Linked DNA regions of Homo sapiens. The protein of the gene in region 2 interacts with the protein of the main gene of each other region in a biochemical or structural test. Each region holds a gene or a part of one and is shown on either strand. Other genes may lie near its edges.

Evidence for each region. Proteins that work in one complex are often made in the same cells at the same time.
Region 1: the proteins of SIPA1L3 (region 2) and DGKZ interact in a test that uses a peptide from one of them, tested with the Homo sapiens proteins (one large-scale study listed by IntAct).

Annotation. Positions count from the first base shown.
Region 1 is NC_000011.10:46,350,463-46,353,962, forward strand, and holds part of DGKZ (diacylglycerol kinase zeta), read left to right. Parts: intron 1-3,500. UniProt on the Homo sapiens protein: Diacylglycerol kinase that converts diacylglycerol/DAG into phosphatidic acid/phosphatidate/PA and regulates the respective levels of these two bioactive lipids.
Region 2 is NC_000019.10:38,081,708-38,085,207, reverse strand, and holds part of SIPA1L3 (signal-induced proliferation-associated 1-like protein 3), read right to left. Parts: coding exon 2,109-3,500; intron 1-2,108. UniProt on the Homo sapiens protein: Plays a critical role in epithelial cell morphogenesis, polarity, adhesion and cytoskeletal organization in the lens.

The DNA.
Region 1 (3,500 bases), on a different chromosome or scaffold from region 2:
CTCCCCAGTCATCCACCCCATGTCCCCCATCCCGCCCCCTCCCCACCCCACCCACATACACACATCCAGCCTTGGGGTTGAGGGGCCCGACGGGAAGATCAAGGGTAACAACTAGGTTGGCAGTGGCTGCTGAAGCCAGGTGGAGAATTCTGCATGCGGGCCCTGGCTCATGGGGAGAGTTCCATGAACAATTAGCAGTGTCTGCTGTGGGCTTGGCAGGGGGTCTTGATGGCACATGGGCCACATGTTTGCCATCCTGGCCCCTCTGGGTAGGACAGTCTCTGAATGGCAGCCCCTGTGGGGCTGAAAGAGGCTTTTCCTTAAAGTCCATCTCTGCCCCACACAACTGGCGTCATCCTCTCAGAATCGGGGGGTGGCAGCTTGCCATCTCCCTTTTTTTTTTTTTTTAGCTCAGTGAGCCATGATTCTCCCCAGCTTGTGGATTCCTCCCACCCCAACTGCATCCCACCTTACTTCTTGCCGGAACTATCAGTCTCCTCCCTGAGGAGGAGGAGGAGGAGAGGAGGTACAGGCCCCTACTCTGATCCCAGGGTATTTAGTTTTCCTCTACCCTGAGCAGAGGGCAGGCAGGACCTTTCCATTTAAGCTTCTGTTGACCCTAAGGATTGGGCAGCCAGGAGTGGGAGAGAAGTGGACTCTCTCTCCTCCTCCAGGACCCACCGGGAAGGAGGACCCGCTTATCCTCTGGCCTGGTCTCAGCAGCCTGATCCTGGCAGGTCACAGGGCTTCTGGATTAGCTGGTTTTACACCCCAGGGGCATCAGAAATTACCTGGCACCTCACACATGTAGACATAAGGAGCCTTGGCCTCAGAGCCCCTAGGAGCCTGAGCGTCTGTGCCGCCATCCCCTGCCCTTCACGGTGCTCAAAGTCACAAGCTCCCAGAGGGCAGGAGGCACACCTGCAGAACCAGTGTGAGACAATGGGTCCCATTTAGAGGCACTGCCACACGGCCCCAGCGAGCATGGCCCTGAAGTCAGGGCTGCAGAGGGTGCCCAGCGGGTGCCTGAGCAGAAGCAGCCCCTGTTTGAGTTGGTTCTGCAATGAATAGGGAGGGACGTGTTGAGGGACGCCTCTTTTGCAGAGGTGAGAACCCTGTCTATGGTGCCAGGGTGTCTGGGAGCGAAAGGAAACCTCTTTGAGTGGTTTGTCTCACCTGGGCTAATGCTGGGAGCAGCCCAGGTTGCTGTGAGAGGCAGGGACAACCTAGAATCCTTGGGTTCCAGCAAGTTTGGGAAAGAAAAATGGGCCTCAGTGGCCGAGCTGCGTTCATCTCACTGTGTTTGCTCCCCACACAAGGTCAGGTGCCAGAGTATACAGCTGGCCCCTGCTGGGAACCCAGTGTAGAATTCTCACAGTCTCCCTCTGTGCCAAACGCTGTCAGGGGAGGGAATGACAATTCTTGTCATTTTGTCTCCATGCCATACTCCAAAAAGGTCAGATCCTGGGATGTGGAGCTGCCCAGGATTCTCGGTTGGCACAGGAGCTTGAGAGTTGGTGTCCCCTCAGGCAAGGACAGAGGAAGGACTAAGTGACCCCTGGTGAGAGAAAGCTGAGGCTCCAGGCAGCTGGGCTGGGGGAGAGTGAGAGAAACGGGCCTGCCCTCCTCGGCTCCCTGGAGGCCTCTCCAGAATTCGCCAGTGGCCCCCCCGGGGCAGAGGTGAAAGTGGAGTCATAGGTTAGCCCTGAGTCTTAGGCCGCGCGGGCCCCTCGGAGAAGCAGGGATCCGGAGCCCTTCCACCCACTTTAAGGCAGGAGAGAATTGGGAGGTGTGGAAGCAGCCCCTGGAGGCTGCCCTGCAGTGCCTCTGGAGCGACACAAGGGGGCGACAGCTGCCGTTGTGGGAGGCCGGTGGGCGAGGAGCTTCTCCTTCCGCCAGTCCACAGGCCCACGGGGACCCACAGGCACTCGCTGGAAGTTACCTGCAGCTCTAGCTGCCGGGCGGAGCCAATCAGTGCGGCCCAGGGCAGGCTGGGTGGGTGCCTCTAGCCTCCTGGCCCCACCCCTCCCGTCCCCTGAGGCCCAGGCCCAGCCAGGTGGCCTTGACTCAGCCAAGTTCTCGCAGCTAGCCGGGGTCATCTGGGACTCCCGCGCTGGGCTTCCAGGGCCATGTTCATTAAGGCCTCATCACAGGACCCAGGACAGGCTGACCACCTCTCCTCCCTGCCCCCTCTGCCTCCTCCTTGAACAGCCCTCTAAGTCAGCTGCGGGGGCAGTGTGTGCAGGAAGCGGGATCTGCCACACCTGCGGCCAGGTTCTTCCGCTCCCCGAGTTCCTGGGCCACCCCTGAGCGGTGCCAGGCACTCATTCCTTGCTCTTCTTGGCTCTCCTCTGTTCCGTGTCGGGGTCAGCCCCACATCCAGCCTGCAGTGTGGGTTTCAGCACAGGACTTGGCTGGCACTTGGGTCACAGGTGTGGAGGGTAGGCCAAAACTAACCAAATGCCCTGGAAGAGCTATCATTCTGCCATCTTTCCTCTTCACCCCCTGCCTCGCTGAAACACCAGAGACGTGGTTAGGTCGGGAAAGCAGGTTCGAGTGAGACCAAGGGCTCTGTGGCCGCGGAGGGGAGGGAGAGGCTGAAGAGACAGGAGTGGCGTTCCAGCTCCTCTGTCTTTGGTGATTAACAGCTGCCAGAAGCTTGTAAATTCATCAGTTTCATGTGATCTTCATAACATCTTTGTAGTTGGTTTGATTCCCATTTTGCAGATAAGAAAACCAAGGCTCAGAAAGGTCAGGGGCCTGGCCAGGATCCCCCAGCTCACACTGGAGCCCAGCCCAATGATCTTCTCATGACATTGGGCCACTCTACTTAGGAGTACTCTTTTCTTCTATTATTTGCCATCCCTAAACTGGGAAGACCTAAGAAGAGGTTTGAGTGCTCCATGGGGTTTAGTGAAAGGTCTTTGCCTCCGGTGCCAACGGTGTGAGACCCATGAGATAATCTGACCTGGACCCCCAAGGGAGAATGGCCACCAAGATCCCTCAAGTCAGGGGAGCAGGCTGGACTGGGAGAGACCCTTGGTAAAGAGACTGGGGCTGTGAGCCCGTCATCATGTGGCGTCCGGGCTGGGTCTGGCGTGGAGGACAAGTCTGATCTTTTTCCTTGCTTTAAGGGCGCAGGGAGTCTAAAGCCCAATGGACATGCTCAGAGGAGCCCCCATACCACCCAGGGGTCGGTGGCTGGTCTGGGGCAGGGAAGATCGCTTCACTCGTACCCAGTGCCTCATGGTGAGAGGTCTGAGAGGAGAGGGAGGGCCCCAGCATCCTCCTCATCTACACTGAGACCTCCTCCCCTTGCTCCTGGCAGAGCATCAGTTCAGAGCTCCCACGTAGAGGCCTCTCCCCTGCCAGGGATGAGCCCATCTCAGCACATGCCAAAATAGCTGTCTGGGAGCCTGGGCCCGCACCGCCCACACCCCAGCATCTCGCGGGTTAACAGCTTGCCTGTCTCTCCGCCCCCTTCCCCAGCTTGCTGACAT
Region 2 (3,500 bases):
GCCCGGCCTGGAACTTCTTTTTTATCCCTTTCTTTTCAATCTCTGTGTCATTCTGTTTGTGCATGTGATATTGATATAATCATCTTCATTTGTCACACAGTCTGAAGGGTAAAACGTATCACGTGGATCAGCTATGGAACAGATACCCCAAACCGAGGGCTGTCTGACTCCAAGTTGGAGCTCCAGTGTCCTGTGGGATGACTTAACTGACATTTGTTATGTTTGACAAGGATATTACTTTAAATATTTTTAAAAACTAGTTGCTGTGAGCTGGGCATGGTGGCTCACGCCTGTAATCCCAACTCTTTGGGAGGCCAAGGTGGGTGGATCACCTGAGGTCAGGAGTTCGAGACCAGCCTGGCCAACATGGAGAAACCCTGTCTCTACTAAAACTACAAAAATTAGCTGGGCATGATAGCGAGCGCCTGTAATCCCAGCTACTCAGGAGGCTGAGGCAGGAGAATCGCGTGAACCCAGGAGGCAGAGGCTGCAGTGAGCTGAGATCGCGCCACTGTACTCCAGCCTGGGCGAGGCGACAGAGCGAGACTGCCTCAAAAAAAAAAAAAAAAAAAGAAAAAGAAAAAAACAACAAAAAAAAACCTAGCTGCTGTGGGGTACTAGCTGCTAGTACTTCGTCTTTTTTTTTTTTTTTTTTTTTTAAGAAAAGCCCTCTATTCTTGGAAAAGAAAAACTTTGTCTAGCTAAAAACCTGCGTTTCCCAGCCTCTTTTGCACACAGGTGTGGCCACTAAGTGCAAGTAGTTGGACCGGGCTTCTGAGAAAGCTCTTTAACGCATTTATGCCGGAGGCTGCAATTTTTTGAATTTTTCCACAAGTAAAAATTCAGACCCTGGCAATGTCCTTGAGCAGTAGGCTATAACTCCCACATGCTTAGCGTTCCAATAATGAAACACTAGGCATAAGGGCATAAGGGGGTTGACTTGACAAGAGGTCTGCCTTTTTGTCCTTACCCTTTCCTCTTTTTCTCTGCCTGGAAACACAGATGTGACGCCTGGCACTCCAGCAGCCATCTTGGTGTGGAGCAGTGGGGGATCATGCCATGCACTAAGGCTGACCATACTGATGCTTAAGACTGACCATACCAGCCCTGGGCTGCTGAACTCTGGATTTCTTCACAGGAGAGTCCCTTCTATGTTGTTTAAGCCTGTTACTAGCAGTTACAAGCAATTCTCAATTTTTTTTTTTTTTTTTTTTTGAGACAGAGTCTCACTCTGTCACCCAGGCTGGAGTGCAGTGGCATGATCTCAGCCCACCGCAACATCTGCCTCCTGGGTTCAAGCGATTCTCCTACCTCAGCCTCCCAAGTAGCTGGGATTACAGCCACATGTCACCATGCCTGGCTAATTTTTTTGTATTTTTAGTAGAGATGCGGTTTCACCATGTTGGCCAAGCTGGTCTTGAACTCCTGACCTCAAGTGATCCGCCTGCCTCAGCCTCCCAAAGTGCTGGGATTACAGGCGTGAGCCACTGCGCCGGGCAGTTCCAAGACTTTTGTATTCGCTGCTCTGTTCTGGGAACAGTGTCTGCAATTTGCACATGGTGACTTCAGCTTGGTACTCAAACTGCACCTGCCTCGGAGGCCCCCTCTGACCATCCCCCACTGGGATCTGCCCCCACCCTCCGACACTCCATTTCCTTCTTCCCTGCTGTACTCTTTTCCACTGCATTTAGCAGCCTACAATCCCTTGTGTATTTTTCGTATTTATCCTGTTCTATGTTTGTGTTACCCATGAAAACATTATAAGTACTAGGAAGACAGAACATTTGTTTTAAGCTGGTTGATACTACATCCCCAGGCTCTAGAGAGTGCCTGGCACTGAGCTGTCCCCAAGTCCATATGTGCTGAGTAAATGCAGAGCTGTGTCCTGTAGCTCAAGGTTTATGGAGTGCTGCTGTGTCAGACACAGGGCTGAGGCCCGGGTGGCTCTGCTCACCGGATCCTCACAGCCCTCCAGAAGGGAGGTCTCTGTTCCCGCCACATCCTCAGTGCCAGAGCAGGGCCTGGCACAGAGTGAATGAATGAGTAGTGGGGGTCTCGGAGGCAAGCCTCGGCCCACCCAACCTTCCCACCCACACGCCATCCGTCACCTTTGCCCACGAAGTAATCCTGGTAGTAGCGGGCGCCCAGGTCCACATGCTCGATGCTGTACTGCCGGGGCCGACTCTGCGTCCGCTGCTGCTCCTTGGGAACTTCCAACACCGAGATGCTGGCGTTGGTGCGGTAGGCGCTCAGGGCGGGCTCTGCCAGGTGGCCCTCGCCGCTGCTCGGGGAGCCCACGGAAGCCCGGGAGAAGCTCACGTTGCGCTCACACTCGCCCCCGATCTCATTGCGGAAGTGCGGGCAGCTGAGCAGCAGGTCGTTGCTGTTGTCATCGCCGAGGTCCTGCTCCAAGTTCTCCTTGCAGTTTAGGTCCTCTGTGCTGGTGAAGGCCGGGTCCAGGCCTCCGAGGCTGTGGGCCCGCGAGGCCGTGAGGGAGGCCATGGCCGAGGCGGCGGAAGCGGCCGAAGCACCCGTGGTGGTGTTCCGCCGCTGCGACACCGACACCCTGTTGGCGGCCGCCTCGTTGAGGTCGAACAGCATGCTCTGCACGTCGAAGTGGGCGAAGCTCTTCTGACACACCCACGGCCTGCTGGCTTCCGGGGGGCTCCGGCCCTCGTCGGCCTCCCCCGGGGAACGCCCAGCCTCCCCCTCGGGTTTGCTGCTCCTTAGCTTCCGAAAGATGGACGAGTCCACCGTGTCCCCGCCGCCGAGGCCCCGCGCAGGTTTCTTCCGGGCCTTCTCCTTCTCCTTCGTGGGCTGCAGTGGCAGGAGGCTGTCCTTGGCGGGCTGCCCGTTGTGGGAGTCCCCCTTGGCTCCGCCGCCGCCCCCCATGAGGTGTGGGCCAGGATCTGCCCGGAGGAGCTCGGTGAGGGCCTGGCACCCTCGGGCGTCGGGCTGCTCGCTGCGGAACTCGTTCAGGATGTCGAAGAAGCTCTGCTCGGGCATGCCCTGCACGTCGATGGACGAGGTGCTCCCGTACTCGCGGAAGAGGGGCAGCGCCCCCGTGTGCCGGGCCCCCCGCGGCTCCCCCGCGTCCTCCGCGTCACACTCGCTGAGGGTGATCTCGCTGCTGCTGCGGTGCCGAAGGGGGAGGAAGGCCCTGCCGGGGGACCGGGGCCACCCGTCCTGGAACTCCACGTCTTTGGACCTTCTCCTGGAGAGTCGGTGGAAGGCTTTGGACCCTGAGGAAGCCGGGGTGCTGGTGGGGGGCTGTCCGTTCTGTATGCTCCTCATGGAATGGGCCATCTTGGTGGCCTTTGTGCCATCTGTGTCCTGGGAGGGGCTTGGGTTGCTGTGCTCTCTCAGGGCCTCCCGCTTGGGCGGCCAGTCGGCCACCCTTGCGCGCACGCCCATCTTGGGCATTGCGGGAGTGGTGGGGCTGGGGCGGGTGGTGGCGGTGGCGGTGGCGGTGGCGGTGGCCGGGCTCTCGCCAAGAGGCT